Linked DNA regions of Homo sapiens. The protein of the gene in region 2 binds, or shares a complex with, the protein of the main gene of each other region. Each region holds a gene or a part of one and is shown on either strand. Other genes may lie near its edges.

Region 1 (3,600 bases), on a different chromosome or scaffold from region 2:
AATTGCTTGAACCCGGGAGGCAGAGGTTGCAGTGAGCTGAGATCGCACCACTGCACTCCAGCCTGGGCAACAGAGCAAAACTCTGTCTCAAAAAAAAAAAAAAAAAAATATTAAAGAAAGAAGGTGGCAGTGGCAGAATGGGAGATGGGACACAATTATGAAGGTCCTAATTTTGGACAGGTTGGCCAGCCCTGTTACCACACTAAGTGATCATGAAATCACAGAGCACTGAGTTGCTGACTCATCAAAATGAGGTTTGCTTGGAGACTTTTTTTATGAAACTTCACATGAGAAATTATAGAATCTCTCTTGCTAATACGAGTGTGTGGCCTAGCACCCCAGACCCATTCTCCCTCCCTATCTGCCCTCCCTTTCCCAGGAGGCTGGTATTGGAAGCAGGGACCCCTGAATGCTCCAGGCAACATTTCCTAAAAGGTAAATGTTGATGTCTCCAGCATGCTTCCAGGAGGCCTCTTTAGGTACCAACCACTGTTCCCTAGCACCCAACCTCCATTCCCCAAGAGCCAAGACTCACTTGGACTGGGTCTGTTTTGTGATGTTGCGGATGGTGGCCCCCTCCTTGCCAATAATGGCACCCACATACTGGGTGGGCACCAGGAGCCGAAGGGGGATGTCCACTTGCTGCTGCTTGGCTGGGGCCCCCGCTGCCACAGGTGAGCCCTGGCGGGGCTGACCCCGAGAGCCAAAGCCCCCTCGGCGCCCATTCTCAGGTCCCTGTGCTATCTGCTCATCGGGGATGTAGGAGACCTTCAGGGCATGGTTCTCCAACTGGTGGCCATTCAGCTTCATGATGGCTCTGGGGACAGAGTGAGAGTCTACAGGTCATTCCAATCCATGCCAATCATACCAGATGCTCTCTTGGCCAAAGCACTCTAGTAAGTTACAGCTTGGAACACACTAAAGAAAAGGAGATAGTCACCTGCCCACTACCTCCACCTCCATTTTTCACAACTTTCCAGTCTAAATGGCATCAAAGACTTCAAAGGAAAAGTAAATAAATACAGTGTTCCCTAACACTTAGTTGGGATTTATTGTTCACAAAGGCTTTCCACTGGAACCATCAGAGAAATGGGCTTCCAGTCCAATAGAAAGTATAGGGTTCTGCTAGCCTAAAAAGGAAGAGCAAGCCATAGATCTCAAAGTACTCCCATGCCAACTGGAAAGCCTACCACAGACCTGAAGAGGCTCCACAAAGCTAACACATACACTTCCCGGATTGAGGAATCCCTACTACAGGGTGAGGAAACCAACTGCTAACTACTACATACTCCTAACTTTAGAGATGATGAAACCAAGGTCAAAGGAGATTGAAATGTATACATGTAGAATTCAAATGTTAATCCTGCCCTAATGAAGTGTGGGGTTTATTTTCGTTTTTGAAATAAAAGATCTTTATTTCAGATAAAAATTAATATTTCCATAATTAGGATAAAGCAAACACACATTCTTGAGTCCATTATTTAAGGAAATTTATACTATAAATGACTTCCATGAATATTAGAGTTCCTGAATATCATTTGAATATTTGCCTACAGGCTTATGGGAAGTTTCTGTAGCCTTCTCTTTGTAGAAATTCCAGTTTTTCTGAATTCTTCCTTCCTTCAGGTATTCCATTTTGCATTCTTCATAAAAGGCTGGATCATTATAGTGAGCAGTTAGACGTCCTTTCAATAGAGAATTTTCTTTCCAGCATTTTCCTACCGTAAGGGTTCCAGAGTTCTTGCAACATTTGGTAAAATCTTGAAGTTGTTCAGAACACCTCTCTCTGGCCTTTTCTCTCATTATTTTAGGGATCCAAACATCTTTTTCAACATGTCTGAGATGCTGCTTCAAAACTTGCAGCGTCTTCCCATTGTTTTTTATATAAAATTCAAACTCCTTGAAATGCTTGAAATGGTTTACATGACATTTCATAATTCACAACTGAAACCCCTCCATAGCCATGGCACACACTCCTCTTTGATCTCAATTCTTTCTTGTGGCCTTTGCTTAAGCCACTGTTTTTTGTTTTGTTTTGTTTTTTTCTTGAGACAGAGTTTTGCTCATTGCCCAGGCTGCAGTGCAATGGCGTGATCTCGGCTCAGTGCAACCTCCGCCTCCCGGGTTCAAGCCTCAGCCTCCCGAGTAGCTGGGATTACAGGCATGCGCCACCATGCCCCGCTAATTTTGTATTTTTAGTAGAGATGGGGTTTCTCCATGTTGGTCAGGCTGGTCTCCAACTCCCGACCTCAGGTGATTCGCCCGCCTCGGTCTCCCAAAATGCTGGGATTACAGGTGTGAGCCATCGCGCCCAGCCCAAGGCACTGTTTTTCAAATTTCAGGGCAACCCATCAGAGAGTTGTTAAATTAATCTGCCAGGTTGAACGCCATCGTGGCGGGTGTTGAAGCAGCAATTGAGGAATTCTTCTAATGAGCTGCTGGTGCACAAAAAAAAACAAACATGCAGTCTCGAAATTTTAGCTCCTCCGCAGTCCCCCATTTTTTTTTATTATTTTTTATTTTTTTATTTTTTTGATGGAACGCTTCACAAATTTGCGTGCCATCTTCGCGCAGGGGCCATGCTAATCTCTGTACCGTTCCAATTTTAGTATATGTGCTGCCGAAGCGAACACCTCCGCTGTCTTTTGTGCTACCTCTCCTTCCAGAGTCTCCAGAGACCCCTAACTGCCCACTTGGCTCTGGGGCCACAATCTCGCAACGCTCCCCAACCCAATGGGGTCCGCCAGCACGGGGCTGTAATACCACACACCACCAGCAGATGCCGCAGCCCCAACACTTCACAAAGCTAACTTTCAAAATTACAGCCATTTTACTACCTGCTATATACTTGCCAAGCGCTATGCCGGTCGCTTCCAGTCAACCCCGGTCGCTTCCAGTCAACCCCGCACCAGTTGGCCCAGCTGGGAAATGCGGTCACCGTGAGGATTAAGTTAGTAAAATGGTACACAGTGCCTTAAACAGTGACCGGCTGGCCGTGTCAAATTACCAGGCCGAGACCAGCCTGGAGCCGCGGCCTCCACTCCCGCCTAGTGCAGTCCCGGGCCCTCCCACAAGGAGGTCCGGCCCCCGGGGTTGCCTTCCAGCCAGTTGGGGCTTTTGCCCATTTTCCTATCGCCTGCCACCAAGCTGCTGCTACGTATCCCGGCTGGAATCTGACTACCCCTCCAGCAAAGTGGTGGGGGGCGGGCCCGGGTCAGGGAGGCCACATCACCAGCTTCCTGCAGGAACTTCTAGAAGGCGAGCAGCCCGGAAAATGGCATGGGCGGCCGCCCAGGGGAGACCTCGGAGGGCAAGGCATCCCCGTTCCCAGGTGCCCCAGCCACCCCCACCGCTGCAGGTGCACGCCCGCAGGGAGGCGCCATGTGGTGGGGCCCCACATGTGTGTGGGGAGACTGCGAGGTCCCAGCCTACCCACCGCAGGCCACTGCCCCAGACCGCTGCCACCTCCCAGCGCACCTCGCATCCGCATCTGCCCAGGCTCCCAGGGCAAAGATAACTGAATTAGGACACCAGTATTCCAATCTTAGTTCTATTGCTCACTAGCTATATGAAGCAGGAAACTTACAACCTAGTCTAGAC
Region 2 (3,827 bases):
TAAGTAAAAATGAAAAATAATTGAATATCTGCATCTTTAAATAAAATTATTTGACTGCCTGCATGGGGCTTTCTCTTGTCCTTCCCACATTAATGATAAATGATATTCCAACTTTAAATGAATCATAATTGTATGAAAGTCCTATTTTTATATTGACTTATCTAATTTTTTAAGGCTATGGAAGAAATGAATGGCAAAGACTTGGAGGGAGAAAATATTGAAATTGTTTTTGCCAAGCCACCAGATCAGAAAAGGAAAGAAAGAAAAGCTCAGAGGCAAGCAGCAAAAAATCAAATGTGAGTGAAATTTGTATACTTAAAAATTGTATAAATTTTAATATTTATACACTAATTGGAAAATAACAGGTGTTGATCAGACTTGTTAAATGCATAACATCTCTTTAAAGAAGACTTGAACGTTTGAGAGTCATAGGGAAACACCAGTGATCTAAGTGTTTATTGAACTCTTACTATGAACCATATTTGTGAAAATAATCAGAATTGTAAATAACTGGAATTTTGGTAAATTGGCAAGATGAAAAATCTGTCTAGCTTTTTTTTTGTTTTGTATTGGGTGACAGAGTCTCACTTTGTCACTCAGGCTGGAGTGCAGTGGCACTCTTTCGGCTCACTGGAACCTCCACCTCCCGGGTTCAAGAGATTCTCCTGCCTCAGTCTTCTGAGTAGCTGGGTTACAGGCGCCACCATGCCTGGTAATTTTTGTGTTTTTTTTTTTAGTAGGGGTGGGGTTTCGTCATGTTGGCCAGGTTGGTCTCAAACTCCTGACCTCAGGTGATCCGCCCACCTCTGCCTCCCAAAGTGCTGGGATTACAGCTGTGAGCCACCATGCCTGGCCTATCTCACATATTTTCTTTGTATTTTACAGAATGTTCTTCTGAAAATGTCTTAAATATTAGCTGTCCAAATATCTTAATACATTTTGTTAAAGGGTGGAGAGTTTTTTCTCTGAGAGATAGGAAATACTAAATCTCTATTCATGATAGACTGTTTCTTCACCAGTAGTGCTCATTGCCACCCCAAAAATTTCATGTTCGATGGATGGATTTTGAAAATGAAATGAGTATTAAAATTATAACACAGTAGTGCAATAAGAAAACAAGTAGGTGTGTAATGAGTTATACTAATTAGGGAGACCTTTTTAGAGAATCTGTAAATAGGTATCTGCTTAAGACTGAAGGAAACTTAGTTGGGTAAGAATTGAAGTTAGCTCCTAAAAAGTTAGTTACTGATTTCCTAGAAGAGGGGTAATTGTTCTTGAATGTGAGAGCAATAATCACTGTCAATACTATTCAAGGTTAATTTTCTGTTGATTGCCCTGTTTGGAATTTAAAGGAAGAGGATGCTTCTACATATTTCTGTTACTTCATAATCAGGGAATTGATCAAGTTCTAGTTTCTGCAGTTAATTGTCCAGTTGGACAAGTTGGCAAGCTCTGAACCTCAATTTCTTCAGTTCTAAAATGGGATCAGACAAAATTATGTAATAGCTCTGGATTATGTGATTATCCAAGTGACCCATGCTTGTTCTGGGACCAAAGAAAATATACTTTGTAGGTTTGATGATAGTGTAAATGAAGGAAGACTACAAAAAGAGTTAGTTTTAATGCTCTATATTTCAAACACCTGGATATACTAAACAGTGTAAAATAACTTCTTTTTATTTCTTTCAGAAGACGATATATGGTTAATTTATTAAAGTAGAATGTAAGTATAGGAGATTATATTAGATAATGTGATTAGAGCAGTTACATTTGGTACTTGATAGAGGGAGATACTAAATAGAAGGTGGAGGATGTCAGTATATCTGTTAATATTTGAAAAGGAGTACAAACTAAAAGGGATGATTGCATGTTACTTTCGTACTTTAACTTGCTACAGTCTTTTTTTTTTTTTTTTTAAGTTTTAACTAAGCACGTATTCCTACATAATTCTCACTGTATTCCTGTGAGTTAGGTACTCTATCCCTTAGTTTGAAATGAGGAAACTGAGGCTCAGAAGTCAACTTCCTTGGGGTCATTCACATAGTAAGTAGTGGAGTTGGATTTGAACTAAGGTAGTCTAGTCTCCCATAATTTTCCCTCTTAACCACTATACCAGGATTTCTCATCTCTGTCCTCCTGACATTTTGGGCTGGATAATTCTTGGTCTTGGGGGCTGCCCTGTGCGTTGTAGGACTTTTAGCAGCATCCTTGGCCTCTTCCTGCTAGATGCCAGTAGCACCCCCTTTCTCAGTTATGACCGTCTAAAATGTCCCCCTGGAAAGAGGTGGTGGCAAAATTATCCCTGGTGAGAACTATTTAGAAATAGAAAAGGATGATCTTTCCATCATTTCCTCAAAACAATAAACCAGCAGAGCACATAAAAGGTCTAAGGACCTAGTGAACCGGAATAACATTTTTACGTTAGTCAGTTGGAACAGGGGCCTTTAATAATTCAGGATAAAATAAGGCCGGGCGTGGTGGCTCATGCCTGTAATCCCACCACTTTGGGAGGCTGAGGTGGGCAGATCACTCTAGGCCGAGGTGGGTGGATCATTCGAGGTTAGGAGTTCGAGACCAGCCTGGCCAACATGGTGAAACCCCATCTCTACTAAAAATAAAAATTGGCTAGGTATGGTGGCACATGCCTATAGTCCCAGCTACTCGAGAGGCTGTGGCAGGAGAATCACTTGAACCCAGGAGGTGGAGGTTGCAGTGAGGTGAGATTGCGCCACTGCATTGCAGCCTGGGTGACAGAGCAAGACTGTGTCTCAAATAAATAAATAAATAAAATAACATAACAGGTACGGAATAAAAAACACGAGTAAATTATTCCTTCAAGAGGGATTAATTTCCATATTTCATGGGATTATTGGGCTCAAAATAATCACTAAGTTTTAAGGAATTGTATAAAATTGTACTGTAGGGAACATGAGTTGGAATATTGTAACTTCGTTTAGTCCTTTTACATAGTATGTAAGCATATGCTGATTTGTGTGGTTGCTTTCTAATCACTTTGACAACTAAAGTTATACCTGTTTAGTGGTTAAAGTTCAGCACTATAGTTACGGTGTAGTTTATTTTTGGGAAAGTAGCAGATCTTTTAAATTTTACTTGGATAGCATTATTGTAGAAACAGGAAAACTTTAAGGTCTTTATGCTAATTTACTGTAGTAAACTTTGAACTTCACACATTTTGGTTGTGTGCTTGTCCTACTTGCCATTTTGCTTTTGTAATAAATGTTCTTCAAGTATATTGGAATAGAATCTTAGCAGAAATGCAATTCAAAGTGACAAATTTTTTTTTGAGTCAGAGTCTCGCTCTGTCACCCAGGCTGGAGTGCAGTGATGTGACCTTGGCTTACTGCAGCCTCCGCCACCTGGGTTCAAGCGATTCACCTGCTTCACTCAGCCTCCCGCATAGCTGGGATTACAGGCATGACCGCTCCCAGCCCTAAAGTGGCAAATTTGACAGCTAAATCAATTGTAAAAATTCTGTAACAGGTTTATTGGGAGATTTTGAAGATCATGAAGAAATAAATAAGGTTCATAACTAGAGATTTGTGGTATTTTGGGATGCCTATATTGTCATCCTGATCCTCTGATCATTACTACTACTAAAACTTAATCTAGTACAAATAATTCTGTATTAAAGTTATGTGAATTATGCGAAGTAAACTCTGGATTTAAACTGTTACAAATGGCTAAATGCCTACTTGTTAACTAAGTAATTTGATTTAAACTCTAATCTCTGTCTCTTTTTTAATAGGTATGACGATTACTACTATTATGGTCCACCTCATATGCCCCCTCCAACAAGAGGTCGAGGG
Region 3 (3,827 bases), on a different chromosome or scaffold from region 2:
TATTTCTTGGCTCCAAGCTAAGTGGAAAATTCCTTTTCATTGAATGTGTTCTAGCTCTTGAGACTCCAGCCTTTGGAATAAGAGTAAGTAAATATAAAATCTAATACCCTAACGTTTTCCTTTCATGAACAATTGGCTCATCAACTTTGATTATAGTTGTCTTATGCCATGTTGTATATTATTTGAAGTTTATATACTTCATTTGTTCTAGGGTTGGGCAGAAATAAATGTTGGTAATTTTTTTTTTCTGTGATTTGCCTAAGCAGTTGGAAAGCCTGCCTGACTTGGGAGACCTGGATTTGCTGGTTTCTAACAGTGAAATTTCTAACCTTGCTTGTATATGTTGTTACAGGAGCTTTATTGCAGAAATGACCATTTATATCAAGCAGCTGGGCAGAAGTAAGTGTTACTGTTTCCCCAATATTCCAAGTCTCTGTATAGAGAAGGAATCTTCACATTTTAAGTCTTGAGTCACGTATACAGAAGCTGTATTATTTGAAAGAGCACATAATGTAAGATAGCATCTAGGGTATATTTTAGAATATTAGTAATTATATAAATTAGAGGCAAAGTCTCCCAGTTTGCATGTGAAAACAGACCATGTTAGTGTAATCTTTCAAAGGTAAGACACAGTGGGATGATTAGGAGTCTGCCAGTGTCAATTAATTTTAAACCTTTTTTGTTTTTTGAGACGGAGTCTTGCTCTGTCGCCCAGGCTGGAGTGCAGTGGTGTGATCTCGGCTCACTGCAAGCTCCGCCTCCCAGGTTCACGCCATTCTCCTGCCTCAGCCTCCCCAGTAGCTGGGACTACAGGTGCTGCCACCAAGCCCGGCTGATTATTTTTTGTTTTTAGTGGAGACGGGGTTTCACCATGTTAGCAGATGGTCTCTATCTCCTGACCTAGTGATCTGCCTGGCTCAGCCTCCCAAAGTGCTGGGATTACAGGCGTGAGCCACTGTGCCTGGTCTTAAACATTTTTTCATTTTTATATATACAATGAGTTATTTTGAGTGGATGGATAATACTAAGGGAGAGAGGATAAAGGCAGGCTAACTTCTGTCAGCTCACTTACCTTATCGAGGTTAATTTGGCTAGTTAGGCAGAAAGATACCTTTGTACCCCTTTGCTTTATATTCATCTCTCCTAAGGATGAATGATACAGGAGGAGAGGAAACTTTCTGTTAATATTTTCTATAAGGATATGAGTAACTTAGCTTTAGTTTAATGCTAAGGTCAGCAAACTATAGCCCTCTGGCCAGATCCAGCGTACTGCCTGTTTTTATAAGAACTGTTTTATTGTAACATAGCTACACTCACATTTTAGACTTTACAGGTCACACATTGTTATTCTCATTTTATTTTTACAACTCTTGAAAAACGTAAAGCCATTCCCAGTCCTATGGTTTATCAAACTCTGTTGTCAGTGACTGCTTTCACACATTAAAGGCAGAGTTGAGTAGTTGTGACAAGATACTATATGGCCTGCAAAGCCTAAAATATTTATTAATTGACCGTTTATAGAAAAAGTTTCCCAAATCCTGGTCTAGGTAACCACTCTGGACCCAATTACTTTTACTGGTTTATTTTTTACTCTTTGTCTTTTCAAACTATGTTTTCTTCCCCATTTTAATGTCTGATATTAACAGTGACAACTTTGTTGAAATAGGTTATTTGCTTTCATAATATTGATTTGTATGAGTCCTAGTATCAGCCAGTAATCAAAACTGTTGGTTATTTAGTTGATAAGCTGTTTGGCAATTTCTTTTGTTTAGCAGATATTAATAGAATAAAAAGGAACTAGAAGCCATGGCATACCCTGTATTTTAGGGCTTCTTGTGTACGTAAGCCCATAGTTTCTTGTGATAAGATGTTTCTTTACTCAGATGATTTCTTTCTGTCTGATAATCCTGACCTTACATTATAGGGATTTTTGCACGAGAACATGGATCAAATAAGAAATTGGCAGCACAGTCCTGTGCCCTGTCACTTGTCAGACAACTGTACCATCTTGGAGTGGTTGAAGCTTACTCCGGACTTACAAAGAAGAAGGAAGGAGAGACAGTGAGTCTTTAGATTTAATAGACTTGTGAGATAGTGTGAGATTCAATTTAGCTCTTGTTTAGTGTTTGGCTGAAGAAGTTTAATTTTAAGAATCTTACCTCAGGAAATGAAAATGGCCCTGCTAATCATCTCTGTGTCTGGCATGATGTTCATAATAGGCAGTGAGTAAATAATCATTGAAGTAATTCTCTCACAAAAGGGAACTGACTATTGGTTTAGGAATATTGTAGACCTAGTGTTGACTGTATAGTCTTAGCCCCATTATAGTAGATTTGAGTAGTGTTGTTAATGTGTGATCCTTTTTCCATAGGTGGAGCCTTACAAAGTAAACCTCTCTCAAGATTTAGAGCATCAGCTGCAAAACATCATTCAAGAGCTAAATCTTGAGATTTTGCCCCCGGTAAGCATAAAGCTGTTTAGTTCACATTTACGTAGAACTCTCCGTAGACAAGCAAATCATATTTTTTGTTTGTTTTTCTTATTTTTTAATAGCCTGAAGATCCTTCTGTGCCAGTTGCACTCAACATTGGCAAATTGGCTCAGTTCGAACCATCTCAGCGACAAAACCAAGTGGGTGTGGTTCCTTGGTCACCTCCACAATCCAACTGGAATCCTTGGACTAGTAGCAACATTGATGAGGGGCCTCTGGCTTTTGTGAGTGCAATATTGTTTTTGAGATCAGAGTCTTGTGTTTTACTCTTGAGACTATATTTGATTAGTATGTCTAGGTAAAAAATGGATTTATTTTGAAGCTGAATTATGTGCTTTTGTTTGACTATGTTGGCTTTTTGTTTTACAGGCTACTCCAGAGCAAATAAGCATGGACCTCAAGAATGAATTGATGTACCAGTTGGAACAGGATCATGATTTGCAAGCAGTAAGTCTGAATTATTTAGACAAGTAGTGCTCAGAGCTTCAGAATGTTCTAGGTATGGGTAAAAAGTCAATGAGCAGTACATTTTGCCCTTTTAAGGAGGGCATATCAAAAGATATGTACCAAACTGCTAATCCTAGTTACCCCTGAAGTTAGTTGCTATGAGTTGAGGGCCTGTGAGAGAATTTCACTTCTTAATGTAATTTAATAAAAGTGGAGAGATTTAAGGCAGTGACTCCTTTTGTTGTTGGTTTTTTTGTTTGTTTTAGTGTTTTCCAAATAAAAAATTAAAATGTTAAAAAGAATGCGTGTGCGACTTTCAGGGACAATGAGAATTTAGTTTTTGGACAACATCAAAAGATACATTCTTCAGAAGTGTAGTGAAAAGAAGTAGTTCTATTAGAGATATAAATATACACATTCTTTTTTGAAAAAAACATTTTCATCACTAAGCCAATGGAAATGAGTAAGTTTTTATAGAGATGGAAGTTTGGTTTTTTTGTTTGTTTTTTTCTTGAGACAAAGTCTCGCTTAGTTGCCCAGGCTGGAGTACAGTGGCTCAGTCTCGGCTCACTGCACCCTCCGCCTCCTTGGTTCAAGCAATTCTCCTGCCTCAGCGTCCCAAGTAGGTGGGATTACAGGCACACCCCACCACACCTGGCTAATTTTTGTATTTTTAGTAGAGATGGGGTTTCACCATGTTGGCTAGGCTGGTCTCGAACTCCTCACCTCATGATCCTCAGCCTCCCAAAGTGCTGGGATTACAGGCGTGAGCCACCGCGCCCAGTCTATAGAGATGGAAGTTTTTTAAAGGATCAAGACAGTTGCTTCTAATGTGTTGGTAGACATTTGACTGAAGTGTGACTTTTCTAATGCAGATCTTGCAGGAGAG

Evidence for each region.
Region 1: SYNCRIP (region 2) and IGF2BP1 share a complex: the UniProt entries of both Homo sapiens proteins name them as parts of the coding region determinant (CRD)-mediated complex.
Region 3: SYNCRIP (region 2) and DHX9 share a complex: the UniProt entries of both Homo sapiens proteins name them as parts of the coding region determinant (CRD)-mediated complex.

Annotation. Positions count from the first base shown.
Region 1 is NC_000017.11:49,035,385-49,038,984, reverse strand, and holds part of IGF2BP1 (insulin-like growth factor 2 mRNA-binding protein 1), read right to left. Parts: intron 818-3,600; coding exon 536-817; intron 1-535. UniProt on the Homo sapiens protein: RNA-binding factor that recruits target transcripts to cytoplasmic protein-RNA complexes (mRNPs). This transcript 'caging' into mRNPs allows mRNA transport and transient storage.
Region 2 is NC_000006.12:85,615,287-85,619,113, reverse strand, and holds part of SYNCRIP (heterogeneous nuclear ribonucleoprotein Q), read left to right. Parts: intron 1-174; coding exon 175-296; intron 297-3,766; coding exon 3,767-3,827. UniProt on the Homo sapiens protein: Heterogenous nuclear ribonucleoprotein (hnRNP) implicated in mRNA processing mechanisms. Component of the CRD-mediated complex that promotes MYC mRNA stability.
Region 3 is NC_000001.11:182,856,180-182,860,006, forward strand, and holds part of DHX9 (ATP-dependent RNA helicase A), read left to right. Parts: intron 1-352; coding exon 353-399; intron 400-1,924; coding exon 1,925-2,061; intron 2,062-2,371; coding exon 2,372-2,461; intron 2,462-2,553; coding exon 2,554-2,715; intron 2,716-2,860; coding exon 2,861-2,938; intron 2,939-3,813; coding exon 3,814-3,827. UniProt on the Homo sapiens protein: Multifunctional ATP-dependent nucleic acid helicase that unwinds DNA and RNA in a 3' to 5' direction and that plays important roles in many processes, such as DNA replication, transcriptional activation, post-transcriptional RNA regulation, mRNA translation and RNA-mediated gene silencing.